Linked DNA regions of Homo sapiens. The protein of the gene in region 6 purifies or fractionates together with the protein of the main gene of each other region. This does not show direct contact. Each region holds a gene or a part of one and is shown on either strand. Other genes may lie near its edges. The genes, in order: PPM1L, SLC25A24, PHLPP1, ARV1, SKAP2, SLC22A2 and SLC20A2.

The links.
Region 1: the proteins of SLC22A2 (region 6) and PPM1L purify together in Homo sapiens (affinity purification with mass spectrometry; one large-scale study listed by BioGRID and IntAct). This does not show direct contact.
Region 2: the proteins of SLC22A2 (region 6) and SLC25A24 purify together in Homo sapiens (affinity purification with mass spectrometry; one large-scale study listed by BioGRID and IntAct). This does not show direct contact.
Region 3: the proteins of SLC22A2 (region 6) and PHLPP1 purify together in Homo sapiens (affinity purification with mass spectrometry; one large-scale study listed by BioGRID and IntAct). This does not show direct contact.
Region 4: the proteins of SLC22A2 (region 6) and ARV1 purify together in Homo sapiens (affinity purification with mass spectrometry; one large-scale study listed by BioGRID and IntAct). This does not show direct contact.
Region 5: the proteins of SLC22A2 (region 6) and SKAP2 purify together in Homo sapiens (affinity purification with mass spectrometry; one large-scale study listed by BioGRID and IntAct). This does not show direct contact.
Region 7: the proteins of SLC22A2 (region 6) and SLC20A2 purify together in Homo sapiens (affinity purification with mass spectrometry; one large-scale study listed by BioGRID and IntAct). This does not show direct contact.

Annotation. Positions count from the first base shown.
Region 1 is NC_000003.12:160,754,855-160,759,030, reverse strand, and holds the start of PPM1L (protein phosphatase 1L), read right to left. Parts: upstream 2,801-4,176; 5' UTR 2,723-2,800; coding exon 2,324-2,722; intron 1-2,323. UniProt on the Homo sapiens protein: Acts as a suppressor of the SAPK signaling pathways by associating with and dephosphorylating MAP3K7/TAK1 and MAP3K5, and by attenuating the association between MAP3K7/TAK1 and MAP2K4 or MAP2K6.
Region 2 is NC_000001.11:108,140,939-108,145,421, forward strand, and holds part of SLC25A24 (mitochondrial adenyl nucleotide antiporter SLC25A24), read right to left. Parts: intron 2,773-4,483; coding exon 2,605-2,772; intron 1-2,604. UniProt on the Homo sapiens protein: Electroneutral antiporter that mediates the transport of adenyl nucleotides through the inner mitochondrial membrane. Originally identified as an ATP-magnesium/inorganic phosphate antiporter, it also acts as a broad specificity adenyl nucleotide antiporter.
Region 3 is NC_000018.10:62,970,142-62,974,624, reverse strand, and holds part of PHLPP1 (PH domain leucine-rich repeat-containing protein phosphatase 1), read right to left. Parts: intron 2,112-4,483; coding exon 1,917-2,111; intron 1-1,916. UniProt on the Homo sapiens protein: Protein phosphatase involved in regulation of Akt and PKC signaling.
Region 4 is NC_000001.11:230,995,757-230,999,309, reverse strand, and holds part of ARV1 (protein ARV1), read right to left. Parts: intron 3,551-3,553; coding exon 3,326-3,550; intron 2,190-3,325; coding exon 2,047-2,189; 3' UTR 2,043-2,046; intron 1-2,042. UniProt on the Homo sapiens protein: Plays a role as a mediator in the endoplasmic reticulum (ER) cholesterol and bile acid homeostasis. Participates in sterol transport out of the ER and distribution into plasma membranes.
Region 5 is NC_000007.14:26,861,287-26,866,281, reverse strand, and holds the start of SKAP2 (src kinase-associated phosphoprotein 2), read left to right. Parts: upstream 1-1,691; 5' UTR 1,692-1,852; coding exon 1,853-1,919; intron 1,920-4,995. UniProt on the Homo sapiens protein: May be involved in B-cell and macrophage adhesion processes. In B-cells, may act by coupling the B-cell receptor (BCR) to integrin activation. May play a role in src signaling pathway.
Region 6 is NC_000006.12:160,244,757-160,249,239, forward strand, and holds part of SLC22A2 (solute carrier family 22 member 2), read right to left. Parts: coding exon 4,460-4,483; intron 2,543-4,459; coding exon 2,428-2,542; intron 790-2,427; coding exon 683-789; intron 1-682. UniProt on the Homo sapiens protein: Electrogenic voltage-dependent transporter that mediates the transport of a variety of organic cations such as endogenous bioactive amines, cationic drugs and xenobiotics. Functions as a Na(+)-independent, bidirectional uniporter.
Region 7 is NC_000008.11:42,494,248-42,498,730, reverse strand, and holds part of SLC20A2 (sodium-dependent phosphate transporter 2), read left to right. Parts: intron 1-4,483. UniProt on the Homo sapiens protein: Sodium-phosphate symporter which preferentially transports the monovalent form of phosphate with a stoichiometry of two sodium ions per phosphate ion.

The DNA.
Region 1 (4,176 bases), on a different chromosome or scaffold from region 6:
CTGTTATACTCCCAATAGCAATTAAGTAACTCCTTTTGTAGCACTTTCCTTATTTTGCCCTAAAACAAAGCCAAAATGAACTAACTGGCTACATACGATAAGGGATTATGAACAGAACAAATACTCTATTTTTCAGAGTACTGATAATATCAATTATTTTGCAAACAGCATGCTTTTTAATGTAAGGCACAAAGAAAAGTATTTCATGGTTTGGCTAAAGATTATCATCTTTTCATTTGCAGTTAAAAAATTTAATGACAAGCCATGTACGTGTAAAATACTTTTAGTAAAATAAAAGCATTTATCGTGTCCCTTTTCTGGATGGTACATTTACCACAAGATACTACTAGAAATTTTTCAACCTGAAAAGTGTTTTGGTCTGCAACTTTCAGGTTTTACAGTATCAACTTAAAAGAAAAAAAAATTAAATCACCCAATCACTTACACCTTTTTAGCCCAAGGCTGAAACTATGCCAATGCATCACACCCAGACAACCACAACCCAAAATTTCACCACATTACTATTACAACCAAATCTTTAATAAAATTAAAACTGTGCTTTCTAAGACCAGAAGCAGATTATCACCAGCCACCAATTTTAATATAAAAATATATAATAAATATAAGCTTGTTAAATGATTTACAAAGGAAGGAATCACAGCTTCCTTCACCCTCATTGAATTTAGGCACAAAAAAATGAAAATACAGATAGTCTGCTTCAAGCCAAGAAGACAAATCAGCCATTATACTGGCAACTTTGTCATTAAGATATGTTTTTGCCCATGTACACAGCCTTTTTTCCCTCAATTAATTTTATATCTTTCACTTACTCTGTGACCAAGGGGAGGGGACCCCGACACTACCCAAGAGGTTACAAATTTACAACCAGTGAGAAACCTGCATTCTGAAAAAACAATATAAAAAAAGCTAGAGTGGATGGAAAATGGCAAAAACTGATTTCAGTTCTACCAAATGAGTTTTTCTACTAAGTTTGTCATTCTTGGCAAAGTTGGTTCTACAAGGTAGGTAGGCACAGTAGCATGAAAAGATTAGCAGAGTGATGGGTAAGGAATGCGGATAAGATATCCAGTTGAAAGCTTTCTCAATGTTTACCCAAAACAAAGGCCAAAGAACAAGCAAATGCTTGAAAAAGAATGGCAGTCCCTGCAGTTCCCTACAGCCTACCCAGAGATCAGAGGGCAGAGAAGAAAGTTGGGGGAAAACTTGTATGGGAGTTCGGGGGAGGGGTGTAATCAAAAACAGGAAGGGGTTAAGAATAAGAAAAGTATGCTGCCAAAAGGGAAAACAAAGAGTATGCAGCAATGAACCCGTTACAAACCGCCAATTTGAGAGATGGGGTGATTGGCCCAGTGTTCTTTGGAGCATGGCGCTAGAGCCACATTTGCCTCTCACTTTGCCTGGGCCAATGCGCAAGGACCAGAGCCAAGCTTTGCCTAACCTCCAGGAAACCTGGGCCTCAGCGCACAACCCGGGTGCCACAGAAATGTGGGAGAGGGAACTGAACTGGCCTCTAGCTATCTCCTGCTTCCAGATGAACCACAAACAAAGGAATCTAGAAGCAGGACGACGTCTGCACCCCTAAGCCCGCCAGGGCGCAAGGGTGAGGTCAAAGCACCGCCTCCTTTGCGGGCATAGCCACCTCTGCAAAGGCCAGGGACATCTAGGTCCCGCTCTGAGATCCTAGTGAAAACAAGCGGCCAGCGAGGCGCTCCTGTCAATTGGCCCGATTGCACTTGTAAAGTTGATAGAGTTGGAAAGAAGCGCAGAGCTGCCCCTCGGATTCCTCCCTAGAGTGAAGGCGATGGGAAGGAGTCACAGCTTCCTTCACCCTCAATGAGCTCGCTCTGCAGATATAGCCTGTTTGCCTAATGAAGCATAAGATATTGTCTTCCTTCTCTGTGCCTAGTTCAGCTCAAACCCTAGAACAAGGGCACTGGGGTCTGGGACCAAAGTTCACTGGAGATACCATTAATTCTCCTTGCTAAACTAGCACAGTGTTTTCTGGGTTCCGGCCTTGGGAACCTCACATTAAGTAGCAACAAATATGCTGTGGATGACTCTCCTTTCCCTAAAGTGGACCCTCAGCACCAAGAAGTCTGGATCCAGCAGTGCTTTTGGCAACTTGAGCCGCATTTGTCCAGCCAGGCACCGTGGTGTCATCACCACGCCCCTCGCACCCAGATCCTCTCCCGCTGCGCACACGCTGTCCTGTTGTTTATACACACACACACACACACACACACACACACACACACACGAGACATACACGGACACAAATACAAAGCCCCGGGGTAGCTCCTACCTCTCCCCCGTGCCCGTCGAAGATCCCGAAGATGGACGGGTGCGTCTTGTTGGCCAGATCCGTGAGAACTTCGAAGCGGTCCTCCATGTGGTCTCTCCGGCCCTGGATGGAGTACACCGCCACGTTGTGGTTCTTGAACTCCCAGGTCTTGGAAAACTCGGCCTCGAGCACATCAAGCCCCCCGAGTCGATCGTTCTGCATGATCTCGGCTACCTTGCCCTTCACCATCTTCACGGCGTCCCGGCTGGACTTCACGATGGTCTTCACCTCGTCGGTGTGGAAGAAGTAACTCCATAGAGCCAAGCTGATGCACAGCAGGAAAAGCGTCTCGGGTCTCAGCAAGAAGTAGCGCATGATGCGACCCAGCAGAGACAGCAAAGTCATTGTATCCTCTATCATTTATTATCGCTAGAGCCTCAACCACCACCAGCGACGCGCGCCCCGAAGGCTCGCCGGGTCCGGGAGCACTGCGGGGACAGCCCGCCGGGAGGGAGGCGGAGCAGTGCCCGAGGGTGGGGGAGAGGATCGCGGAGCCCAGCCAGAGGCAGCCGAGCAAGCGGCTCCGAGCAGGCAGCGCGAGCAGAGGCAGCTTCCCTTTTGTCTCCCCGCCTCGGCGGCCCGGAGGCCCGTCCCTGCCGCCCGCGCCGCCTCCCTTCCCTGAGCCCCTTTGTGAGACCGCGGCGGCGGCGGTAGCAGCAGCCGCCGCAGCAGCAGCCGCTGGTGCCCCGGTTGGGCAAGAAGAATCAAGTTAAAGTTGCGCTGGGCGGGTCTGCCGCGGTGAGCGGGAGAGTTCAGGGGCGCCGGCGCCCGCGCGGTCCCTCCGGGGGTGCCCCCTCGAGACTCCGGAGAGCGATCAGCAGGTGAGGCGCAGGGCTCCAGAGCCCGGCGGACGAGGGACGCAGGTCCCCTCGGTCGCCGCCGAAGGGGAGCGCGGAGATGGCGGAAGGTTCCAATTCCTTCACACACCCCGGGGGCCCCAGAGAATAAAAGTTTTGCGGGAGCCTGGGCAGAGACAGGGGTACGCAGAGCCCGGCGACGCGGCACGGTCGGTACTGAGCCGCAGGCGGCCGGCTGGGCTCTGCCTGCCTCTCCCAGGCACCTCCCGGCTCGGATCGGCTCGGCTCAGCTCGGCTTCACTCGCGCGCTCCCTCCTCGCGTCCCGGCTCGCGCGCGCTCCGCCCCCCGCGCGCTCGCCCCGCCCCGTCCCGCCCCTTGAGTCGGGACTCGACACCCCGAGGTGTTCCCACCCAGCTGTCAGAGGCTGAGCAAGTTCCGCGGCCGCCGGTGCGGGCTCGCAGCCCCATGCGGTCCAGGACAGCCAAGGGGGAGAAAAGAGGGAGGTCCGCTGCCTAGCTCTTGCGAATCGTTGTTCCTTCCCCCTGTGCCGGCTCCTAAGACAAGCTAATACTGACCCCGGTAGTCTTAGCGTTGGTTTTCCAGGAACTATTGCTGCTCACTGGGAAGCCGAGAGCCATACGTGAGCGTTCCCCCCTTCGGCGGCTGCACTATAGTGCGGTCCCCGCTTCGCCAGCCATAAGGCAAGCGAGAAGGGACGCACTTCTCCCGGCTTGCAAAGCGGTAGGGAGACGATCGGGCCGCTGGCCGCTGTCTCGGCGTTCAGCAATAGAGGCCTTCCCGGATCTCCCGAGAGGCGGGGAGCGAGCCTGGGTCCAGCAGCCTTCTCCCTCCCGAGAACAGCAGAAAGGGGGGACTCGACAGAATGACCTCTGTTTCCCCAAGGAAGTGCACTCTGACGATAACCTCGGGAGGGACGAGAAGGGCCGCTCTTTCGGAGAGCGGCCGCCGCCCCTGGAGTAGGGGACTCAGTGGCCACGAAGGCCTTCCCTGCTCGC
Region 2 (4,483 bases), on a different chromosome or scaffold from region 6:
CCTATCAGTAACTGCTTTAAATGTAAATGGATTAAATCCCCTAATTAAAAGATATAAATTGCTGAGTGAATAACACATACAGAATCAACTATACCTTATCTATGAGACTCACTTTAGATCTAAGGACACACATAAGCTGAAAGTGAAAGGATGGAAAAAGATATTCCATAAAAACGGGAACCCAAAGAGAAAAGGGGTGGCCATAATTACATCAGACAAAATAGACTTTAAGACACAAACTGTCACAAGAGACAAAGATGGACATTACATAATGATAAATGGGTCACTTTACCAGGAAGAAATTATAACTTCATATGGACCTAATATTAAGCTCCTAAATATATGAAGCAAACACTTACAGAACTGAAGGGAGGAATAAACAGCAACACAGCAATAGTAGTAGACCACCACCCCACTTAATGGTGTTGGGGAGGACATGGAGAAATTGGAATCTTGGTGTACATTGATAGAAATGTTAAAAAACAAAAAGGTCTAGTTACTATGGAAAATGACATGGAGGTTCCTCAAAAACTTAAAAATAGAATTACCATTTGACCCAGAAATTCCACTTCTGAGTATATGTCAAAAAGAACTGAAAACAGTATCTTGAAGAGATATTTGCACAACCATGTTCACTGCAGCACTATTCACAATAGTCAAGATGTAGAAACAATCCAAATGTCCATCAACAGATGAATAAAGAAAATGTGATATATATACCCAACAAATTATTATTCAGCCTTAAAAACAAAAAAGTCCTGTTGTATGCTATCATATGGATGAATCATGAGGAAACTATGTTACATGAAATAAGCCAGTCACGGAAAGAGAAATACCACATGATTTCACTTATACAAGGTATTTAATGTAGTCAAACTCATAAAACGAGAAAGTAGGTTACACAGCGCTGGGGTGAAGGGGAAATTGGGAGCTGTTGTTTAATGACTATAGAGTTTAAGTTTTGAGAAGTGAAAAAGTTCTAGAGATCTGTTGCACAACAAACCACAAACAGTTAACACTTACTGTACTATATATTTAAAAATGGTTAAAATCATAAACTTTATGTTATGTGTTTTTAATCACAATTTTTTAAAAAACTCAGCACAAGAAGTAAAGTCCTGAACCATACCACCTCACACCTAAGAGGACGGCCATAATAAAAATAAGCTTTTTTAAAATGGAAATTAAGTGTTAATAAGGACGTGGAAAAACTGGAACCTTTGTATGTTGCTGGTGAGAATGTAAGTGCAGCCACTATGGAAAACAGTCTGATAGTTCCTAAAAGCTAAACACAGAATGACCATATGGCTCAGCAATTCCATTCTGAGATATATACCCAAAGGAATTGAAGGCATAGACTCGAACAGATACGCAGATGCCAATGTTCACTGCAGCATTATTCACAATGTTGGAAAAGTAGAAATAATCCAAATGCTCTTCAACAGATGAAGGACTAAACAAAATGTGGTATATACACATAACGGAATATTACTCAGCCATGAAAAGAAATGAAGTTCTGATACATGCTACAACATGAACAAACCTTAGAGACATTATGCTAAGAGTAATAAATCAGACACAAAAAGAAAAATACTGTATGATTCTACTTATAAGATATCTTGAATGGGTAAATTCCTAGACATAGAAAGCAGATTAGAGGTTACCAAAGGTTTGAGTTACGGAGGGTAGGAAGTTATTGCTTAAAGGTTAAGGTGTTTCTGTTTGGAGTGAGGAAAAGGATTTGGAAATAGTGTTGATGGTTGCACAATATTGTGAATGTAATTAATGCCACTGAATTGTACACTTAAAATTAGTAAAATGGCAAATTTTATATTTTATAATAATTTTTAAAAATTATGTAAGAAGCCAAAAACCATTTGCTTGTACACTTCAAATGAGTGAAATGTAAGGAATATGAACTAAATCTCAATAAAGCTCTTTAAAAAAAAAATTCGACTCTTCTTTTCATTACACATTCCACTCTTCCTCTACGCTGTAGCTTAGGTCTCATCCTAACATGCACCCTGGCTCATGTCTGTCGCAGCACAGATAACCACGCTGAGTTTTAGTCGTTTGTCTCCCCCACCAGACCTTCAGTTTCTTCAAGGCACACATTGAGTCCTTTGAATCCCCAGATCCAGTGTCTAACCTAGTGGTTTGTATAGTGTGTGCTCAATAATTGTTTGTGAGATTCATAAATTATTAAATGATTTAGATTGCAGGGTTGATCCAAGATTTGTATTCTTCCGTACAAGGAATGAAACTGTATTACTCATGTTAGTCACATTAGTCACTTGGCTTAATGTCAGATTTTTGCAAATCCAAAACAAAGGAAAAAATCTCTAGAAACACCTTTTAAGGTGAACAACTATACCTAACTTTGAGTCTACTCTTCATTAACAAAAGCAATTCCCAAGAAAATCTAATACAAAAGTGACCCCATGCATATTCACACTCAAGTTACTTGAAAGTTCAAATAACACATGCTTGAATTTACTTCTGGTCACACACTGTTTTCTGGTATATATCTACTTCTTCATATAAAGTCCAATTCTAACAAGATCTAACTGCATTTTCCAATTCAAAAGATTTCTACAAACTCACCTCATACACAGCAAGATCTATGCCTGCATAAGGTATGATACCTAATAAATTGGGAACATAGCCTTTGTAAAAAGCTCCCAAGCCTTCATGTTTCAAAATCTTCTTGGCACAATCATATATTCCAGAGTACTGCCCAGTTTTGCCTACAGCCAGCCTGGTTTTCATAACCTGGATATAAAAAAAAACAAAATATGATTGTTCATATTAACTCTATCATCATGGGATTCAAATGAAGTAATTTTACATGGAACAAATACCTAGCACATATTGTCACTCAAAAGACTGTACAATTTGTTGATACATTCTCTTTCATGTATTACCTCTATTGGGGGGCTAAGACCAAAGCCAGAGAGACCCGTTTACTGCAAGGAGGATCTGATGAAGGAAGTGACCAAGGAAATGGAAGCAAGATAATCTATTGATGTCTTAACAAAACTGACTGGTGACCACCTGCATCTGGAAGGTGAGGGAAATGGTAGTATAAAGGATAACCCCAATACTTCTAGCTTGGAACACAGGATGGGGCAGTGGGGAGTTGGGAAGGTGATACTATTAACTGATATGGAGGATATGAGAGGAAAAATAGGTATTAAGTTTTTTTGAGAGGTGTGTGGAGTAATATAAACAATCATATTAAGATGCTTAAAAAAAGCTGTATTAGCATGCATACCACATATCGGTGAAAATTGTATTTATCTTGCTTAAGTCATCAGTTACTAAAAACCCCTCTGCTATATCAATAAATTCCACATCTACAATATTATTTTTGCTATAAAGCAGTAGTTGGAAAACTTTTCCTGTAAAGACTAAATAGTAAAATATCTGTCGTTGCAAGCCTAAAATATTAGGTCTCGGTTGTATATTACTTTTCTTTTCTTTTGTTTTTGCCTACTTTTTAAAAATTGTACTTTAAGTTCTGGGATACATGTGCAGAACGTGCAGGTTTGTTACATAGGTATACACGTGCCATGGTGGTTTGCTGCACCCATCAACCTGTCACCTACATTAGGTATTTCTTCTAATGCTATTCCTCCCCTAGCCCCTCATCCCCAAAAAGGCCCCAGTGTGTGATGTTCCCCTCCCTGTGTCCATGTATTCTCATTGTTCAACTCCAACTTATGAGTGAGAACATGTGGTGTTTGGTTTTCTGTTCCTGTGTTAGGTTGCTGAGAATGATGGCTTCCAGCTTCATCCATGTCCCTACAAAGGACATGAACTCATCCTTGTTTATGGCTGCATAGTATTCCATGGTGTATATGTGCCATATTTTGTTTATCTAGTCTATCACTGATGGGCATTTGGGTTGGTTCCAAGTCTTTGCTATTGTGAACAGTGCTGCAATAAATATACGTGTGCATGTGTCTTTATAGTAGAAAAATCTATAATCCTTTGAGTATATAACCAGTAATGGGATTGCTGGGTCAAACGGTATTTCTGGTTCTAGATCCTTGAGGAATTGCCACACTGTCTTCCACAATGCTTGAACTAATTTACACTCCCACCAACAGTGTAAAAGCATTCCTATTTCTCCACATATTTGCCAGCATCTGTTGTTTCCTGACTTTTTAACTAACTGGCGTGAGATGGTATGCCATTGTGGTTTTGATTTGCATTTCTCTAACAACCAGGGATGATGAGCCTTTTCTCACGTTTGTTGGCTGCATAAATGTCTTCTTATGAGAAGTGTCTGTTCATATCCGTCACCCACTTTTTGGTGGGTTTTTTTTTCTTGTAAATTTGCTTAAGTTCCTTATAGATTCTGGATATTAGCCCTTTGTCAGATGGATAGATTGCAAAATTTTTCTCCCATTCTGTAGGTTGCCGGTTCACTCTGATGATAGTTTCTTTTGCTGTGCAGAAGATCTTTAGTTTAATTAGA
Region 3 (4,483 bases), on a different chromosome or scaffold from region 6:
ATGGCAGAGACGGACAAAAGACCATTATTGCTCCCATGGCCTCATGAACAACTATGGCAAGCCCCACAAATGGTAACACTGCCCAGGCCCCTGCTGTTCCTGAGTGGTACAGGAGCAAGAAAGTTAAGAAAAACAGCCTCCCGTTTTACAAGGGCAGACCCTCAGGTACTGTCTGCTCCTATCACGTGTGTAAGGTAAGCAACTGGCAAGAAGAGCAATGGAAACCAGGGCTGCCTACTTGCATGCATTAGGAAATCCCGCACAAAGACCAGTTCCCCTAAGGACCAAAAGCTCACCACACAACCCGTACCCTCTTAACAGATAGGGAAAATAAGAGACATACAAAAGACCCTGGAGAAGGGCCTATAGTTTAGGTTCCTAAACTCCAACTTTCAGATATTTGGCTCTAGACCCTTCCAAGGCATCTCTACTTTCTCCCTTTCACAGGCACAGTGATTTGTAAAAAGTATAGCAAGTAATCCGAGACTGGGGTTCTCAGTTTTTAATTCTTACCCAGTGCTTGAGGGTGCATAAAAAGCAGACCTTTTGGGGGTTGTGAAGGGATGTGTTTGTGCTGTGGTCTGTATGCACATGTGTATGTGTGTGCATATGATACATGCTTGCTGTTTTTCTAGAACAAAAGGGTGGTAAAAACAGGAAAGCTGATGTGCCTGCTAGTTACAACATCCTTTGAAGGGAGTCTCACAACCTGAGGTCAGGTCCTGGCTGCACTACCTATTAGCCCGTAGGCACTGTGCTTCACCTCACTGTACATCACTTTCAGTAACATTACCCAGCTAACTGGTAACAATTTATGACACATAAGGTAATTTAGAACAATGACTGGTACATATTAAGGGCTTGCTGGATATTAGCCATTATTGTTCAGTTGCTAATTGTATATGCTCACTGAGAATCTGAAAGTCAGGGGTGAGTGTAGCAGCAAGAACCACCCCAGGCTTGCCTCCACCAAGCTCTCTGAGAGGAACCATTTGTGATGCAGGTATCACTGTAAAGGCTGCTCTGAACACTCCTCCCCAGACACCACTTCTACCCCTCTAACAAAGCTACTTGCTCTGGCAGAATATCAAGGGAGAGAAAGAGCAGATAAGGATAAAACACCATGACTGCTCTCATGACCTCAAATACCAGTACATTCATCACTCCTGGGTCCCACATGAGTGAGTCTGCAGCACAATACTTATAGACAGGCAATTCCATTATTACCTAGAAAGCCATGAAGGTGGTAAGAATAAACAATTCTCTGAATGAAGGAATCCTCATTCCTCTAAGAGTTACAAACAATATTCCACAATTTCTACAGCAACCTAAAGCTCTGCTGCTGGTGGCAACTCCAGGCTATGGCCTAGGATTCTGCCAGTAACACTGTCTTGAACATTTAATAAAGGAGAAAACAAAATATAAAGAATGATTTAACTCTTGGGCTAAAATCTGACCATCTTGATTTCACAAAGGTTTGCACTATCTCAAACCAGTGATAGTATTTCATAAGGGCCAAGAAACTAGGATAGAAACGGTCCATTTCAAAGAGAGGTCCCCACAACAGAAAGTCTAAAAAGCCCCTACAGCTCACATGATTTGGGAGGAGAAATGGCATTGCAAACAATCTGATGAAAATCTGCAATCAACACAGGCCAGTGAGGTCCAGTTCTCAGAGAAACTAATTCCTTGTCATTGTCTGAGCCTTCTACAAAGTTGTCTGAACATCAGTATGTCTCAAACCGGAGCACCATTCCTGATGCCTGGGCAACACCAAACTTGCCTGAATGCATCTTGGTACTCATAGTCAAAAAACATGGCTTGGAGACCATTGGGCACCTGCTTTTCTAAACAGAGGATAAACACTCAAAGAGCAAGAAAACACACAGCAGGTAAGCAGGAACTCTGAGTTTTACCTTTGCATGACAATGAATGTATTGACCATGTATTCTTCTTCGTTTTTTGTTTTTTGCAGCTCTTCAGCCAAAATGTCACTCATAGTGCACTGGAGAAGGTAGGGCACCTCCACATTCCGGTCTCCGTCAAACACACCATACAGGGCTTCGCGGTTGTCACAGAAGTTATTCACCGACAGGGCTGCGACACACAACCTGCAAGGCAACCACACTTCTGTGCTGAGTCCACTCATCCTCCTGCTCCAGGCCCAGCCCAGTGCTTATTTCAAGATTTTCCTAACTCAGTTTTGTCTCTTTCTTCATGACTCCAGACAGATTAAGGGCAGGTAAACTGACTCCAGCTAATTTCCAACAGCCAATTTTGATAAGCAGAGAAGGATGAGCACAAATTATGCTTCACACATGCCTTCCTACATGCTTCTCTTCTGATGAGTTTATTTTTAAATGTCAGTGACAGAAGGGGAAAAAGAGGCATGGGAAATAAGAGAAGATTATGAATCCATATCTACACATACATTCAATAAGCAGTTATTAACCACAATCTCCACATCCAGCCAAAATAGAAAACTAAAACACTGGGAAAAATAGACGAAACCTATATGAAAAGCATGTACAAATACAGAAAAAGCCTCAAATGACTTTTAAAAAATTATTTTTATTTTTATTTTTTTTTGAGACAGGGTCTCCCTCTATCACCTAGGCTGCAGTGCAGTAGTGTGATCTCGGCTCACTGCAGTCTCCACTTCTAGGGCTCAAGCGATTCTCCCACCTCAGCCTCCTGAGTAGCTAGGACTACAGGAGTATGCCACCATGCCCAGCTAATTTTGTATTTTTAGTAGAGATGGGATTTCACCATGTTGGCCAGGCTGGTCTCGAACTCCTGAGCTTAAGCAATCTGCCAGCCTCAGCCTCCCAAAGTGCTGGGATTACAGGTGTGAGCCACTATGTCCAGCCTTCAAATGACCTTTTTAAAAGGCAGGAAAAACAAACAAACAAACCCCAACTGGACAATAAGAGCACAGGTCAGTAATCCTGGAGAGAGCCTGCTTCCCGCCCAGCTTCCTCCTGGGGAAGTGTCCAGGCTGCAGCACAGGGAGGAAGACCCAGGTGGAGGCTGTGGTCTCCGTGCATTGAGGAGATGGAGCTGGGGGCTGAAGGAGGACAAGGTGGCCAGAGTCCACAGTCAGTGCACTGGAGGAGGATAGTGGTTCCCGGCAAATGTGGAAAGTTTGGAGACTGTCTCCACTCCAAACTCAAAAGAATCAAACTGTTTCCAAGCAACTGTGTCCCAGAAACTGTCCAAAATGAAACAGAGAGGAAAAAAAAAAGACTGGGAAAAAAAAAAAATAAGGCCAGGACCTTAGTGAGTGGTGGGATAACTTCAAACAGCCTACTATACTATAGGGAGTTGGAGTCTTCGAAAGAAGAGACAGATAACACTTTTGAGGAGTTGATGGCTGAAAACATTTCCAATATGAAGAAAATTATAAAACTACAGATACTGCAAGCAAGACAAACATGAAGAAGACTTAACTGAGACACATCAAAATCAAATTGCTAGAAACCAGGAACAAAGGCGGGAGGTAGAGCAGGGGAAACCAGGACGTGCCCAACAGCAGGCTTCTCCCTGGAAACCTGGTAGGAGACAGTGGAGCAACGTCTTGAACGTACCAACGGAAAACAACTAGAAAACAACCTAGATTTCTAAGCCAGTACAAACAGCTCTGAAAAGTTAAGGGGAAATAAAGACATTTCCAGATGCACAAATAAAAGCATTTACCACCAGCAGGATGGCACTAAAGAAATGGAAAAGGAAATCCTTGAGGCACAAGAAAATGACACTAGATGGAAATCCGGAACTGTACAAAAGAATGAAGCACAACGATAATGACAGCCAGGTGAGTGAACAGAAACATTTCCTCATTTTTTGTTTCATTTTTTTTTGAGATGGAGTCTCACTCTGTCACACAGGCTGGAGTGCAGTGGTGTGATCTTGGTTCACTGCAATCTCTGCCTCCCGGGTTCAAGTGGTTCTCCTCCCTCAGCCTCCTGAGTAGCTGGGATTACAGGCACCCGCCACCACGCCCAGCTAATTTTTGTATTTTCTGTAGAGACAGCATTTCACCATCTTGGCCAGGTTGGTCTCATACTCCTGATCTCGAGCGATCCGCCCGCCTCGGCCTCTCAAAGTGCTGGGATTACAGGCATGAGCCACCATGCCCAGCCTCATTTTCTTATTTTAAAAATCACCTTAGAACAGTGATTCTTAATAGAATATTCAATAATATTCTAATGGGTATTGGGAGGCAACAACAAAGAATTATCTGGCTCAAAATGTCAATGGTATTGAAGTTGAGAAACACTGCTTTAGAAAATAACTAAAGTAAAAATAACAATAATGTATTTTGGAGGTTATAACATAGATGGAAGCAGAACATATGACAACAACAGCATAAAGGCCAGGACAGGAGAAGGAGAAGTACATATTTGCAAGGTTCTTATATGTGAAATGACATTACTATTACTTGAAGGTAAACAGTAATGAGTTAAATATCACACTATAAACT
Region 4 (3,553 bases), on a different chromosome or scaffold from region 6:
GAGCTGAGGAGCATTTCAAGAGAAACGTTATCAGAAAAGGACTCTGCTTCAACAGGAGAGTGCAGGTGACACCGAATTCCACATCAGACCTGTGGACACTTGAGGTAATGGCAGGACCGTCCTGGTAGGAGGCAGGGGACCTGGCAGAGAGGGGAAGCTGGAGGTATGAGGCCTGGAAGGAAAGTACACAGTTACGTGCACAGTGAAGGGAAGGAAGAGGGCTGAGGACAGAATCCTGGCACAGGCAAAGAAGTCAGTGAAGAAAGATCTAATGGGAAGGGACTGGGTGGCCTGTTTCAGCAGGAGCCAAAAGCCAGAGGTTTCTGGAGCAGAGCTAAGGGAGGAGGAGGACTCAGAAAACAAGGAGGAATTGGCTTCCTTGTGTATTTTTTTGTTTTTGAGACAGGATCTTGTTCTGTCACCCAGGCTGGAGTGCAGTGGCACAATCACAGCTCACTGCAGCCTTAACTTCATGGGCTCAAGCAATCATCCTACCTCAGCTTCCTGAGTAGTTGGGAGTACAGGTGTACGCCACCATGCCCAGCTATTGTTTTTTTTTTTTTTCCTGTAAAGATGGGGTCTCACTATGTTGCCCAGGCTGGTCTTGATCTCCTGGGCTCAAGCCATCTTCCTGACTCGGCCTCCCAAAGTGCTGGGATTACAGAAATGAGCCACTGTGCCCTGCTCTCCTTGTGAATTTTAGGAGCATAGGTTCAAGAGACTCTGGGTGAAAGTATGTTTTACAAAGAGGAAAGGCAGTGAAGAAACAGGGGAAGCAGGCTTACATCAACTGTTCTGGAATGAAGAGCTGTGCATAGGCAGAGGGGAGAGAGCTGCTATACAGGAGAGAGGATCAATGAAGCAGCGATATGTCTGAAGACCCAAAAAGGTGGATTAGCTGGGCATGAAGAGAGATTGAGGCAACAGGAGTGGAGGATGGCATGTTAGGAGAGGCAGAGAAGCTTTACAGCCGCTACTTGCAAGGAGGATGTAACAGCGAGGAGGGAGAGACCAAAGCGCAGCCTCAACTCTCCCTGACGGGGGTCTGTGTCCCTCTGCTCCAGTGTTTTCCTCACTCTCTGGCCCAGCCTTCCAGGATCCTGCCTAAGGTCCTGCTTCCTAACACAGAGGCTGCCATCCACAGTCTGGCTGTGACTGGAGGGAGGGGAACACCCACAGGTCAGAAACAGCCCCAGAGAGGAAGCTGAGCACAACATGAGATAGGAAGGAGAGAAGGAGGAAAGAATGAGGAAGACCGAAGACGAACTGACGTGAAGAGGGAAGCTTAAGGAACTTGTGAAGGTCTCAATTCTCAGCAAAGTCAGAGCAGACAAAGGGGACGACCAGAACAGAACAATCGAGGTATGGCCCTCTGATGGGAGGGTCACTGGAGGTGACTATGAAGGCACAGGAGCAGCATGACATCTTCTGAGGTTCTGTGCACTGGCAGAGGTGGCTGCTCAGGAAACACTGCGAGGCTCTCTAGGAGACAGGTGGCAAGACTCACCCAAACAGCCTTAGCAAAGCACGTATGATGGAAGGCAAAAGGCTGATGGATGTCAAGGTACTAACAGAGAAGAGCACAACACAGCCTATAGGTTCCAGGTGTGGTTAAAAAAGAGGCAAGGCAGGTCAGAAGTAGCGAAAATGAGAGGTCAAGAGACTAAGAGGTGAGAAAGGCAGCAAAAACCTGGCATGGGGGAAGGGAGGGTGGAGAATGGTTGGGAAGGGTAGGAGACAGTTTTAGAGTCTGCAATCCTAGTAGAATGGGTGGGAGTGGAGGTGTTAGAAAAATTGTGAGGATAGGACCCTAGAAGCAACAAAAACATGGATGTTGATGTCCCAGAGGGTGACAAAAGGAACTAAAGTGAAGACCCCTGGGGGCCATGTAGTAAAGTCCTTGAGGAAGATGAGGGTGACCTAGAGGCAGTTAGACGCTAGAGAATGGGTTATGTAAGGGCACCGACTTCTTTTACAATGACATCTGTCTTATTTGAGAAGGCTACATGTCTGAATGCATGAACACTACATGCTTTCAGTACCTCTTCAGAAGTCCTGAGATTTAAAGATGGCATAATCACTTCCAACATCCCATTCCATACTCTGGAAGAAGTAGACCATGATGCTTTCCAGCAGTAAGCCACTCAACACGGCCAAGAAGGAGAGCTTACGGTTGATGTTTAGGGTCACTGGAAAGGAGAAGGCAGCCAATAAGTTCAGAATTAATGAAACGATATTGACATGTAAATTTTCGGGTAGTATGAATTGTTTTGTAAAGCTGTTTTTGGAAAAATCAATGTTTGTTCTTATTAATCTATGCTGTTACCTTCTCCCACTTTTCCATCTACACATTTTTAGAGAACCAAAGCCTCTACTTACAACAAAACACTGAGCCCCTTCTCCTCATATCAAGCGGCAGATTCCCGTGAATATCAAAGGAGAAAACAAAAAATTCTAACGCTATAAGAGAATAACGACAACAACAACAAAATGATACTTTCAGTGTCACAGTTTGCAAGATGACAAGCATTCTGATAAAAAGTATCAGGTAATAAGTTCATTTAAAATAGGACTTCGGCCAGGCACAGCGGCTCATGCTTGTTCCCAGCACTTTGGGATGCCAAGGTGGACAGACTGCTCGAGCCCAGGAGTTCAAGACCAGGCTGGCAACATGTCGAAACCCTGTCTCTACAAAAATTTAGCAGGGTGTGGTGGCATATACCTGTGGCCAGCTTTTCAGGAGGCTGAGTTGGGAGGATCACTTGACCTCAGGAAGTAGAGGCTGTAGTGAGTTCTGATCACATCACTGCACTCTAGCCTGGGTGACCAAGTGACACCCTATCTCAAAAAAATAAATAAAATAAAAATAAATAAAATAGCACTATGTAAAATATATGGGAAAAATGAAGACACACAGGGCTGCTCTTCCTGATATAGTAGAAATTGTCCTGGATTGAGAGGCAGATACTCAGCATTCTCTCCTGACTTGATAACTGCCCAGCCATGTAACGTCGGACAAGCCACTTAACCCTCAGAGCCCCAGGAGCTCATTCATAAAATCAAATAATGGCAGTTCTACTAACCTCACAGGACAGAGATGATGCATATGAGAGCATTTTGAAAACTATAAAGTACTATATGGTTAAATGTAACAAACACTGAGTACCTGCTATGTATAAGGTGCTATAGAAGTGTTAGGTATTATTACTATGCGATGAAGAATTCCAGTGTTCAACAGGTTATATAAAAACTGCACCCCAGAAACAAGGCTTTAAGCTTTTTATGGGTTGAAAACTGAGAAGGCAGAATAAACACATAAACATACCTCTAATTGCCTGAAAATTTGATGTAAGAACAAATACTTTAATGAGTTTGAGGCACACAGATGTGTAGTCATGTTCCCAAATGACAGCTGGAATCAGCAAGAGTTTTCCGTAGCTAGATAATAATAATGCTTTCAGCAGCAAAATGAAGTTGGGCTTTTTTTTTGCCGTCATGGGCCGTTCTACCCACAGGAAGGTAAAAATGCCAATAAAATAGGCAGTTTGTTCTA
Region 5 (4,995 bases), on a different chromosome or scaffold from region 6:
CTTAAACATCATGAACCAACCTCTGCTAACTTCCAACTTTTCTTCTGCAGCTTCTTTACCTCTCAGCCTTCGTAGACTTGAAGAGAGTTAGGGCCTTGCACTCGATTAGGCGTTGGCTTAAGGGAATGTTATGTCTGGTTTGATCTTCTATCCAGAACATGAAAACGTTTCTTTACCAGCAATAAGCCTCCTTCGCTTTCTTATCATTCGTGTGTTCACTGGAGTAGCATTTTTACTTTCCTTCAAGGACTTTTCCCTTGCATTCACTACCTGGCTGTTTGGTGCAAGAGCCCTAGCTTTTGGTCTGTCTCGGCTTTCAATATGCCTTCCTCACTAAGCTTAATCATTTCTAGCTTTTGATTTAAAGTAAGCTTTTGATTTAAAGTAAAATGATTCTTTTACTGGAACACTCAGAGGCCATCGTAGGGTTATTAATTGGCTTAATGTCAATATTGTTGTGTCTCAAGGAATGGGGAGGCCCAAGAGAGGGAGAGATATGGAGGAAGGTATAGGGTTGGTAGAGCAGTCAGAACACACACATTTATGGATTACAGTCGCTGTCTTATATGGGTGCTGTTTGTGATGTCCCAAAGTAATTATAATAGTAACTTCAAAGATCACCATAACATATACAATAATAATGAAAAAGTTTGAAATATTGTTAGAATCACCAAAATGTGACAGAGACATGAACTGAGCACATGCTTTTGGAAAAATGGCGCCCACAGATTTGCTTGATGCAGGGTTGCCACAAACCTTCAATTTGTTAAAAAATGCAATATCTGGGAAGCACAAAGATGTATGCCTGTTAAAGGTTTTAAAGAAGCCATTTTTTTTAAAAGAGAAAACTTTTAAGAAGCTTTACAGATAGAAGACAGTAAGTATTTGTTGACTAAATGGTCAAGTTGGAGTGAGCAGATTTTATAATTTTATTCTACTAACCACCACCAGCAATTTTATTTTTGATGCTTGTAGATGGACAGTGGTGCCAATGTCTATTCGGCCTTCTGTTTTTTTGTTTTGTTTTGTTTGTTTTTTCCTGCCAAAGGACGGTGCTTAGAACTTCCCAGTCTTCCTTGTAGTGGGGAAAATCTGTCACCCCAAGGATACGAATTAGGTAGAAAAGTAATGTAAGAGCCAATCACAACGCGCGCTCCGGAGCGGCTCCAGACTGGCTTCGCCCGGACGACTGGCGGAAGACGAGACTTCGTTACCTCCGTTCAATCGGACAAAGAAGGCCATAATAGTTTAGGACAAGAGAAAATTCCTTGTGGGTTAAACTGCGGTGGGACTGACTGTTACGCAGAAGGCGTAATCGCAAAACTTGTATACACTCTGTATCATGGATACATTATTTTCTGGAATCCTGCAGAAACGATCAGCAGTTGTGATGGCACCAGTACCGAAAATGGCTGTAAGGCGCTCCGGACGCTGGATCAGGTGACGCAGCATCAGGTGACGCAGCCTCAGTCCGCCCCCTTCCCACCAGTGGCTCCTCCTCCTGCTTCCCGGCGTAGCGGTGGGCGTGGCTTGCCCACAGGCTCTTTCTTCTGGGGCCGGGAAAACCGAGGAATACACATGCGCAGTTGGACCCCTCAGGCCCTTCGTGTCCCTTCCCACCCATCTCCCCGCCCCGGCCCTCTGGGCGGGGCTGGGCCGACAGTCCAGCTGCAGCTCGCTGGAGATTCAGTGACTTCCTTGTTGTGAGCCCCGGCCCGGCAGTGTCCCGACTCGTAGCCCCGCTGTTCTTAATCCGGGCCGCTAGCCTGAGTCTAGGTCGCAGCCGCAGCCCCACCCCGTCGGTCACCTTTTCAGCGCAGGTCCTTTCCCCGCACGCCCTGCGCTCCCTAACATGCCCAACCCCAGCAGCACCTCCTCTCCCTACCCCCTCCCTGAGGAAATTAGGAACCTGTTGGCAGGTAAAGAGCGGGAAGGCGGCGATAATGCTGTCGGGGCGGGGGCGAGGGAACGGTGAGCCGGTGGGGACAGAAGCATTCAGAGCCCTTATCCTCCCTCCCCGCGCTTCCCACGTCTTCTAGCCAGTGGGGTCGGCACAGGGAGGAGAGGAGAGGGGTTGTTTTGTCTCAGAAAGGGAGTGGACGTGTGTGTTGAAATTTGGTGCGGGGATGGTGGCGAAGCCCTTTTTGGTGATCTACACAAATGGGATCAGGACGTTTCTATGTGCATTGTGAAGACGGTGTGTGTGTGTGTGTGTGTGTGTGTGTGACAGAAGGGCGGGGGAGGAAGAGTGGAAGAGGGAGAGAGAATGATAATGATAATGAATGCTGCGTGAGCAAGCAGAAGGGAGCAGAAGTCAAATAAGTAGTTCTTGGGTGGTCTGGCCAATGGAGGTAGAGGATGTAGAGATGCAAAGAGCTGTCAGAGCCACAGGTGTTAGGGGTTATGGGGTGAAAGAGTTTGTCATTTCTAAAACTCCCGTTTTTCTTAAACATTCAGCTCACTCACGTTTAAGACTTTTGAAGAAGGTCTGGTTCTCAAATGGCCACTTGTCCCCAGCCTCAGTAATATATTAAAGCAAAAAAGGAAGGATATGTTAAAGTTCTACTTCCTGTGTGACACGATGAAAGTACTTCATCTTTGTACCCTTATCTTCCCTTTTTCAGTTTTACATTACCATTTATAGGAACTTATTTTAGGAGCTAAAAACGTGGTTCTTCAGTAGCATTATGAATCCACTACTAGTTCATTAATTTACTGGATACGGAGGTGTGTATGTTCACTAAGAACCAATAATTTATATTTCTGTACAAGGTAGAAAATATATGTTTTTAAGGTAGCACAAATCTTACCTATCTCAATGTTCTGGAATTTCAACCATCATTTATTTTGTCTTGTGTACGTCAGAATTCTGGAAACTGAATTTTGATTTTTAGTTTTAGATGTCTATAAAATATTTATCTCTCAGTATTGCTTATGAATAACTAGATTACAGATTGCTTATTCTAGCTCTTAAAAAGCAATGTCATCTAAAATGTGACATTTGATGACACATTTTATATGTTACTCCTATAGCAATGTGAGTCCAAATCTCCTAATATTCTGTCATTCAATTTTGGTGCTTGGCATTATTAATATGGTAGTGTAATATTAAGTGTATGAATGTAGACTTATGTTTGTATGATTATGGTACAGTATGTTGAATGCATTTGTGGTGGGATAGTCTTTCACTCTAAGAAATGCTTGTTGTCATTAACGGGTACCACTAAGGGAAATAGTTAAAGAAGTCTAAAGACTGACTTCAGGCAGCTTTATTGCATCACATGACTACTGATTTTGTTTTACTACACTTAACATTTTTTGTTTTTACAATGCTGGAATTGTTTGTTCAGAATATTATTGTAATAACCAGCGCAGAAAAATGTTTATCATTATTCCAAAAATAGATGAAACCATTTTCAGGATATTCTATGTCTGTATTTTTGAATTTAAGAAATAACATATAGACCTCTGGGTGCATGTTTTAAAGCTTGGTACCTCCCATAGTACAGTTTGTTATTTGGATCCATAATCATAAATCACAGATAATATGATATGTAGGTCATGAGAACCTTTATTCTCTTATCCCCATAGATCACAAGTATTTCCTGTGGCCCTTATTTGTGTAATTTAACTAAAAACTCAAAATTACATATTTAAATTATCTGCCAATGCTAACTTCCAATATATTTCTGCCTTCTCTCTTTAGTCAGGTAATATACTAGCATAGCATCTGAAATTATTTTAAGTCATTTTATTGACATTTTCACTATTTTATATTATTAAAGCAAATCACATATTAAAACACACATGAAGTATTAAAAAATATTACAATTAAAACTTTTGGAATTGGAAATTTGGATTACACTTTATTTTCAGAGGATATTTTCAAGAAGTATGGAAGTGAGTTGGGGCGTATTTATGTTTAAAGAAATTTAACAAATCAGTGTTTTTCAGGTTTTAAAAAAACTTATTTGGAAAGTTGCTAACATTTTATGTTTGACTGTAATTAAAATCTTTTTTGAGGTAGAGAACGCTTCAAGAATAGATGCTGTCAGCAATTGTTTCATGTATTTCATCTAAAAATATTGTTAGCATTGTACATGATTCTTTTCATAATTCAAGTGTATTGGGTAATAGTATATGACTAGATTTAGAGTAACATTATAGAAGTATTTATATTGGTTTGAATATTAGAGATATTGCTGGCTTATTTAGTCTATTTCTTTGAAACTGAGGAGATATTGGTAATGGTGTTGTAGTTAACAGTTGAGTGCTCTTAGAATGCATGGTACTATGCTAGAATTCCAAGGTAGAGAAGATAAGGAACTAAACTTTTCAGGGGTTTAAAGTCCTTTGTTTTTAGAAAGAAGAATATATAATCAAAAGATAATGACTGTTAAAATAATGTTGCTTAGATGTATCTGTTTGTGTTCCATATGCCTATTAAACTAAATCATTATATGTCATATGTACTGTTTGAAATTTCACCTGCTTAAAAGGGATAGGTACTCAAGTGTATTCTTATTTATTATTTTTCTTTCTCTTTATTTTTCTGTCTGATTATGGCAGTTCTATGCTATACTTTCAACATTTGTTCCCTCTCCCTTTTTCCTTCCCCTATAAAAACCATTCCATAGAAATGTAAAAAAAAAAAAAAAAAAAAAAAGAGGTTGTTATTGTTAACTCACATGTGTTGTGTAAAGATACCATTGAAAAAGTGGCTATCTAGTTTGATTTTTAGTTATATTTTCTGTGGAGTCAGTCTTGAAGACCTATGCTTTTTATAAAATGTTGATTATTCTTTTGGTTATATGAACAGAAAAGGACTTACAGAATTTCGTTGTTGAAAGCAAATTTTGAGCTGCCATATGCATTACAGGCAACCTTTGATTTTTTTCTTTTCTACAACAATGGAAAAACAGGTTTAGCCTGGATAATTGAAATCAAAGGACAATCCCAAATCTTGTCCATTTAATCTTCTCTCACATCCAAATA
Region 6 (4,483 bases):
TGTCAGTGATTGTAAATCTCCATTTGCCTGGGTGGAGATCCAATGTGCCCTGAAAAGATGCATTCCCCACTAGAGAAAGCATGGCTTGAAGCTCTGAGAGCAGCCTGTAGGTAGCAAACACAATAAAGATCAAGTCACTGGGCTGTGAAGCCACTGGAATTATTCTTGTTCAGAAATTTATTTTTTCTCCAGGTAGAAAAGAAAAAAAGGAAAGAAAAGGCAATCCCCCCACAACCCTGTTTTTTGTTTGTTTGTTTTTTGCCAGTTCTGTACTACAATAGAGATCTACATGCATCATCAATTAAGTTATACCAATAGTTCTCTAGTTGGGCTATGCATTTGAATCACCTGGAGAATTAAAAAACTATTGGTTTCCAAGCCCTACCCTAGAACAATTAAATCAGTATTTCTGGGGGTTTTGGCTTTGGTATTTTGTAAGCTCCCAGGTGATTCCAATGTGAAGCCGAGGTTGCCATTGCCTTGATCTGTGCTTAGGGGCTACACCGATCTTAATATTTGCCCAAGAAAAACACGATCAGGAAAACCTACCAGACACAACCCACATTGCTGCCCACCGTCAGCGCTAATACCGGGATGAGGTCATGTTTTCTTCCCTTCCTTACTATGGATGACTGTGATTAAAACAATTTGGAGGCATTTCAAAGTGAAAAATATTCCTTACCAGTTGTACATCAATATCATAGTATGTTTCCTTATCTGAGGAGTTCTGACCAAGTCAAGAAATGAAGGGTTCAATTTCTTGCCAGTTTCCTCTTCAAGTCTCAGGCGCTAAGAAAAGGAATAGAAAGGACGGCTTTGTATATTTAATGCTAGTGTCCCTGGGTCACATAGGGAATAACAATAATTTCTTACCGTCCTGAGCGCCCATCTCATGCCCAGCACTAGAGCAAGCACTTTCCATACTGTGTCCCATTTCATTTTTTTTTTTTTTTTTTTTTTGAGACTGAATCTTGCTCTGTCACCCAGGCTTGAGTGCAGTGGTGCAATCTCGGCTCACTGCAACCTCCACCTCCTGGGTTCAAGCAATCCTCTGCCTCAGCCTCCTGAGTAGCTGGGATTACAGGCATGCACCACAATGCCCAGCTTTTTTTTTTTTTTTTTTTTCCCCGAGACAGGGTCTTGCTCTATTGCCCAGGCTGGAGTGCAGTGGCACGATCTTGGCTCACTGAAACATCTGCCTCCCGGGCTCAAGGAATTCTTCTGCCTCAGCCTCCTGAGTAGCTGGGATTACAGGCATCCGCCACCATGCCCAGCTAATTTTTGTATTTTTAACAGAGATGGGGTTTCACCATGTTGGCCAGGCTGGTCTCAAACTCCTGACCTAGTGATCTGCCCGCCTCGGCTTCCCAAAGTGCTGGGATTACAGGCATGAGCCACTGCGCCCGACCAATTTTTGTATTTTTAGTAGAGGTGGGGTTTTGCCACGTTGGCCAGGCTGGTCTCGAGCTCCCAACCTCAGATGATCTACCTGCCTCTACCTCCCAAAGTGATGGCATTACAGGTGTGAGCCACTGCACCTGGCCTATTTTCGAATAAGCTTAATCTTCTCTTTTCTACCCGCTGTGGAATGAAAATGTTTGAGGTCAACGTGGTGAGATCTACTAAAGGCAAACAATAAACACAGGTAACGAACACCTCTGTAACTGGATTCTATTTAAGAAGGCAGGGGATTGCTTAAAAGCTTTTCAGCCTGGTGCGGTGGCTCATGCCTGTAATCCCAGCACTTTGGGAAGCCGAGGCTGGTGGATCACCTGAGGTCAGGAGTTCGAGATCAGCCTAGCCAACATGGCGAAACTCTGTCTCTACTAAAAACACAAAAATTAGCTTGGCGTGGTGGTGCTCGTCTGTAATTCTGGCTACTAGGGAGGCTGAAGCAGGAGAATCGCTTGAACCTGGGAAGTGGAGATTGCAGTGAGCCGAGATTGTGCCACTGCACTCCAACCTGGGTGACAGAGTAAGACTCCATCTCAAAAAAAAAAGCTTTTTGGACAATTTCTATCCAAAGTGTTTACAATTCTAAGAAATCATGTGTGTTTAAAGAACTGCTTTACTGATCTAAGAATCTGACCTGAGGATGGTGAATATGCAGATGATGGGGGTGCTGGGCACCTGGGCATAGGAGACTGGTGAAGGCTTAAGTTGCACAAGACAGAAGCTCCTCACGTGACCTTTAAATGATTTCTGGTTCTCTTTTAGTTTGATGGTTTCCACCTGTTTGAAATATTCTCCCACGGAACCACAAATCTTAGCATATAAAATTCTCTGTTGCATTCCGCTACAGGTAAGCCAAAATGCAAGGGGGTGGGTGCTTCCATGGTTCCCTGCTGAGATCACTGGCATGCATGAATCTTACCAGAGCCTCCCTTTTCTCCATCCCCTGATTTGATACTTAAGGCCCTGGCTCACCTGAAGGGAGGCGGGTAGAGATTTTCCATTTTTCTTTGCGATGTGCTTAATGATTCTCATGGCTTCAGCATTCTTATTCTGGGAGATCAGCCACCTGGGAGACTCAGGTATGCACCTAGGGTACAAGGTGAGCGGAGGGCAACTCTTACTGAATCCTCCTTACCCCATCCCCCATTTTTTTATAATCAGATTTCTCTGAGGATGTTAATACAGTTGGATCTCCAAAGAAAATAACACTCGTGTAGGGGGATATGTGGTTCTTTCCTCCCTCAAATGCTAAATCCCTCCTCAGGGATTTCTAAGCAGAAACACAGGAAGCAAGCTGCAAAGCAGGGTGCGGCTGAACATCCAGCTCCTCTTGCAAGGAGGAGAGGCAGGTCCCTCAGGGTGGCCCTGGGCTTTGCAAAGGCCTGAGAACTGGCAGAGGGGTCAAGGACTGGATGCTGGAGTATGCAAACCATTGTGGGGGTGGGGAGCAAGTATGTATATGTGTTATGCTCAATTTCCCAAAGGAATGAGATAAGAATTTGAGGTCAGAGGGTGAGGTAACTGAAAAGCGAGACTTCATAGTTTGAGTTTGATGTAGCAGGGCTCGGGGAGCCCTTGCAAGTTTTTGAGCAAGACTAGAACTATTGACTCTGTGTCTGGAGGGAACTCTGAGCAGCTGGGTTCAGGGTGAATGAGTTCAGGGTGGAGGTTCAGCGGGAGGAGAAACTGGAGAAAGGAGATAATAGGGCTGCTGCTGTGGCAGTTATGGTGTAAATGTAGGAAGGCCCCAGTTGGGATCATCACTCTGGGAGCGAAGTTGCTCTGAGAGGCAGGGCTTAAAAGGAACTTGGAATGGATGTTTTTGTGGAAGTGTAATAGAGACAGCAGGAAGGGTCACTCTCAGGGTATAATGGACTGAATGTTTCTGTCCCCGCTGAAGCGCATGCACTGATGCCCTCACCCCCAGTGTGCAATTTGGAGTTGGGGCCTGTGGCAGGTAATTAAGTTTAGCTGAGGTCTGGAGAGTGGGGCCCCCAGATATCCTTACAAGAAGAGGAAGAGAGACTAGAGTGTTATTTTTTCTTCACCATGTGAGGGCCCACAAGTGGGATGTCTGCAAGTCAGGAAGTGGGCTCCCATCAGGAACAAATCTGCCAGCACCTGGATCTTAGACTTCCCAGCCTCCAGAACTATGGGAAATATGTTTTTAAGTACCCGGTCCATGGCATTTTGTCACTGCAGTCTGAGCTGGTAAAACACAGAGTTTTATTGGCTTTTGGATAAGAAACAGGCTTCTGGGAAAGAGTTGAGATGTTTAATTCTTAGGCAAGACAGCCATGGGAAGAACAAGTGGGTAAATCCAGGAGAAACTAAATAAATGGGTTGTAGCATGGGAGAGAGATTTGGTCTGATAATCCAGTATCCCCTTTGCTTTATTTCAGATAATCTCACATTAGGGGTTTCTAAGAGTTTCTGGTATTTCCCATGTGTTTCCCTTAGGCAGGGATGACTAATATATTTTACTTGCCTTGGTAACTCTGATTGATTGGTATGGTCTGTCTGGAGTGTCATGTTGGCCTTATCTGTGATGAAGAATACTGTGATTCACTGGGGATGTCTGCCTTGGGCATGAGTATTGGGAAATGGTGACACAAGTGCCATGCTCTGCTTTCTCCACCCTAAAGTTTCCTCTGAGTGGGGAGAGAATAGTAATAGTGATATTTTCAGTCTCTTCAAAGGGTCTACCGTCCAAATTGTACCACAGCTCCTAGAAGCTAATTTAAACACCAAATAAATAATGTGGAAATGTAAGATCCAAGTCATAAAAACTTTAAGCCCAAAGAGAAAGGACATTTGATTTACAGACGGAGAGGTGAAGCTTGTGGTTTTTATTCCTGAAACATGGAATTGGGCTCTTTGTGAAATGGGTCTGGAGAGTGAAAGCAATCTCAGAATCAGAAAGATAGTGTGCATTAAGGAAGGCAGACTTCTTAGCAGAATAAAATACTTTGATTTATTTCCTTTTTATTCCAAATGGACTTACCAGTAATAGAGCAAGAAGAAGAAG
Region 7 (4,483 bases), on a different chromosome or scaffold from region 6:
TCCAGCTGTTCATCTAAAGTGGAAGGAGCAGTGAGCAGGAGGGATGCCTTCAGCTTCCGTCCGTCTTAAAAACAAGTGTAACATAATGGGATATGGCCCTCAGGAGGAAGGCTGATTTCTCGGGCATACGGGGTACTGCTGTCATTATTTAGCATGTATTAAGCACCCCACAGCACATGCGGTGCACAAGGAAAGCATAGTTCCAACCCACATGCTACAACAAGGCAGGACACAGAAACTGGGCCCCCTGACATTCAGTAACTACACTGGCAGAAAAAAAAATGTGAAAATGAAGAAAAGGGAAACAAGATGAGTGGGGTGGGTTGAGGATACTTCAGCATTCAGCTCCTCTGAGCTTTTGCCAAAGACGATTAGGACAGACAGCTGTGCCACCTGGGCTGTGCCTTCCCTTTCTCCTCCATAGCTGGGAAGTGATGGGGACAAGTGACAAGACTGACCCCAGAAGCCTTGCCCCCCACTCTCAGTCCTCTGTTGCAATCCTCCTACAAAGAGGAGAAGCTTCACAGTTTCACTTGCACCTAAAACTATTATTATTATGTGGAGGGGGTAAACTTGTTATAAAGTGCAATAAATATCAAAGCATCTTTCTCCATAAAATGATATTTAGATAGAAATCTGGAGTTCCAGATTCTCCCTTCCTGAACTGGTTTGCAATTCAACAAGTTACTTAACCCTGCACTGGTTTAGGATATTGAGTCAACTGTAATATTAGTTAGGGAAATGCCTTCAGCTTCTCAGAGGAAAGGCATTATGAAGGTCTACTGAGCATTATTGCAGCTTGTAAAGGAGTTAGAAGCACATGAATCAGAAGAAGGGCTGATAGGAAGGCTTGGGTACTGGGGAGTAATAACATGAGCGGCCTGCGTGGTTCTGTGAGTCTGTGAGTCCCTCCCCCCGTGCCCAACCTCAGCCAGTCTCTAAGGTTCTGGGTCTAGTTCATGGCTCCACAACAAAGAGACTTGGCTCCACAAAGAACCTCAAAAAAAAAAAAAAAACCAATTGAGGGTTGGAAAATGATACCTATGATAAGAGGGTAGGGAACTTCTATTATTTAGCCTGGAAGAGGAAACAAATGACCGGGAGACTCTTGAATTGTTCTTCAAGTATATGTGTGTCTCAGTGGCAAAGAATGGTGACCCACTGGTATCTATTTCCATCTAGAATAAAAGGGTCAGGTCCAGCAAGGGTTGGGCTGGAACAGAGGTGCCGACAGTGGGGACCCTGTTTCTTCAGCGTCAGCACCGCCTGGAAACATGTGAGAAATGCAGATTCTCAGGCCCCACCCAGGCCCTGCTGAATCAGAAAACATGGGGTAGGGCCAGCAGCCTGTGTTTAAAAAATCTCCCAAGTGATTCTGGTGCACGTTGACATTTGAGGTCTGCTGGATGAGATGCAAAGATGGAGGGTATTATAAAATGGGCAATCTGGATGCCAAAAAATGTAACCCTTTTTCCTGAAGTCATCTAAACATGGGATTATATTTGTTTGCAGTGTTTTCAATGTACTCTCTAAAGTCAGGAGATAAATGACCTCTCAAAGTCCCTTCCAGCCCTGACTTTGCTCTGGATTTCCTTTTGTCACTTAGAGAAGATTAATAATTAACCAGGAAAATTTTGCAATTACTTTTCTGAGCTAAGACAGTGTTCCTCTCAAATGAGGCTCACCTGAGATAATGTGAGAATAATATTGTGTTAGCATATGGATCTACTGTATTTTATCAGTGTTACCAGACTCTCCTCCCCATGTGACCTCACAGCCACCTGCAGGGGATCTGGGCAGAGGTAGCGTGTAGCCCATATGGGGGGTGGGGAGCTTATTGTTGGCTCATGAGCACTTTACATCACAGACTGTGGCCAGGTTGGTCCGTCCCTGTCTTCACACAGCCCATTTCAGAAGAGAGGGGGCTGCAAGGAAAGTTGGACCCTACCCACTACACCCTAGGAGCAGGAAGCAACATAGAAGGCCCTAACGAATCCAAGCACAGTGGAATGTATTATCTGTGTGTCAGCTCTCACTAGAGATAGAGGAGAGGGACACATTTTATCACAACATTTTTGTATCTACAACAAATAGCCCAGGGGCACACATAGGATGGACTTAATACAAATAAATTCTAATTCCATTGGAATGGCTAAGGCCACAAGTAAGTGCTCTGCCTTCTCCTCTGTAATGAGTTCTCTAGAGTCAGGAAGGTGGCCATTCTCACCTTTCCCAATCAAAACAGTTACTCCTAGGAGTCCCCTATTCATCTCTCTGCTCTCTCTTCCACCCACCTTTATTTGCACGTAATAGAAATGCATCTGAATTTAGTTATGCCTGTGCCCTTTTGTATATTTTCCTTTGTGCTTTCGCTTGACAGAAGTGTCTCCGGTTGAAAACACAGGCTGCTGAGAGTGTCTATTTGTTATACTTTGTATAGCATTTAGGACAATAAAACCTTTTTGTGCTCATAATGAAGAAAGGGCTCTCTGAGGACATGTTTTGCCAGTGCTGTTAAAAAAGTGTCATACTTCCTGCAGGAGCTAGGTTTTTAAAAATAATAATAAAGATAAAAATAAAAACTGTCACACAAGTAACGCACTGCCATGTCTGAAAAAGACCCGCCCTACCTTAGCCAGGAAATTGTGGCCCTAATATTTCAGCACTTGAAAATGGGATCTGGCCGGGTGTGGTGGCTCACGCCTGTATTCCCAGCACTTTGGGAGGCCAAGGTGGGTGGATCACTTGGGGTCAGGAGTTCGAGACCAGCCTGACCAACATGGTGAAACCCCCTCTCTACCAAAAATACAAAAATTAGCCGGGCGTGGTGGCGCACGCCTGTAATCCCAGCTACTTGGGAGGCTGAGGCAGGAGAATTGCTTGAACCTGGGAGGTGGAGGTTGCAGTGAGCCAAGATCACACCACTGCACTCCAGCCTAGGCAACAGAACAAGACTCTGTCTGGAAAAAAAAAAAAAAGGGGGAGGGATCTGTAGAATCCTTGGCTTTTATAGCATAGTTAATTACATGTTTGCAGAGTACTAAAAATTGCTTGAGGTGAGAAAAGACTGGTGAGGACATTTGAGCCAAACTGTAGTTTGCCTGGTCATAAGATATTGATGTTACTATTCAGTCTTTCAATCTTTCAACCTCATTATGTTTCAAAAAACTGACCTCTCAGACATGAAGCTGCATGCACTGTTATTTTCTACATCTGTGTCTGTTTTCAGAACATATGAGGCCCAATGAACATGGTGTCTGTACAGAGATAAGATCGACGTGTCTCCCCACTCCAGAGGGCACAGGGAGCTGATCTTAACCCTGAATGAGCCTTTCAATATAAGTAGAGTCTGTGAAACCCATGAACTTCCAATAAATATACAGCCAGTAGGGAACATTCCAAGTGTCTGTTTAATTTGGTTCTTAATAATGGCAGCCAAAAAGCTATTTTCATTTCTGTACAAAGAGGAATTACTAAATAGTCATTCTTTTCTTGGTATTTCTTCCTTGGAAAAATCACGTTTCTAAAATCAATCTGTAGCTAGTTCACAAATGTGTCATTAAAAATAAGAGACGTGGCCGGGCGCAGTGGCTCATGGCTTTAATCCCAGCACTTTGGGAGGCCAGGGTGGGTGGATCACGAGGTCAGGAGATCGAGACCATTCTGGCTAACACAGTGAAACCCCGTCTCTACTAAAAAAAAAAAAATACAAAAAAATTAGCCAAGTGTGGTGGCACATGCCTGTATTCCCAGCTACTCGGGAGGCTGAGGCAGGAGAATTGCTTGAACCCGGGAGGCAGAGGTTGCAGGGAGCCGAGATCGCACCGTTGCACTCCAGCCTGGGTGACAGAGCAAGACCCCATCTCAAAAAAACAAAAAAGAGTGGTTAAGTGGTTTGGAATAAACTTTGTCTCATTATAGCTGTCCAGTCAAAAAAAATTAAACTTGAAGAAAAAGGTAAAAAATTTTACTTATTATTAGACTATACAAGATTTATGGACCTAATAGTTGAATAAAATATCCCCAGAAACAACCTAATAAGTTACTGATTAAATAATTTATTGTATTTCCACAGCATAGAACACTACGCAGCCATTTGAAATGATGGCGTTAGATGTATATCAAGTAAAAACTAGCAGGTTACAAAACATTATGTATTTATGACCCCATTTTTATAAAAGCAAGGCACACCTATGTATGTACCTGAGAAAAGAATGCTGCATTTATTATGAGCAATAACTATCTCTAGGAGGTGAGCTTATATGTGATTTTCACCCCTTCTTTTTGGTTACCTGTATGTTAATTTTTTTCTTCAATAAGCATAGATTACTTATGTAATAATAGAAAACTTTCTCTTTAAAAAGTAACTATTTTAATTAATTTTTATTTTGACTTTATATTTTATTTAATTTGGCAGTGGCCTCTCAGTTGGCTTATATAAGTAGTGCCTAGTCCAACTGATAAAGCTAGTACACCAATATGT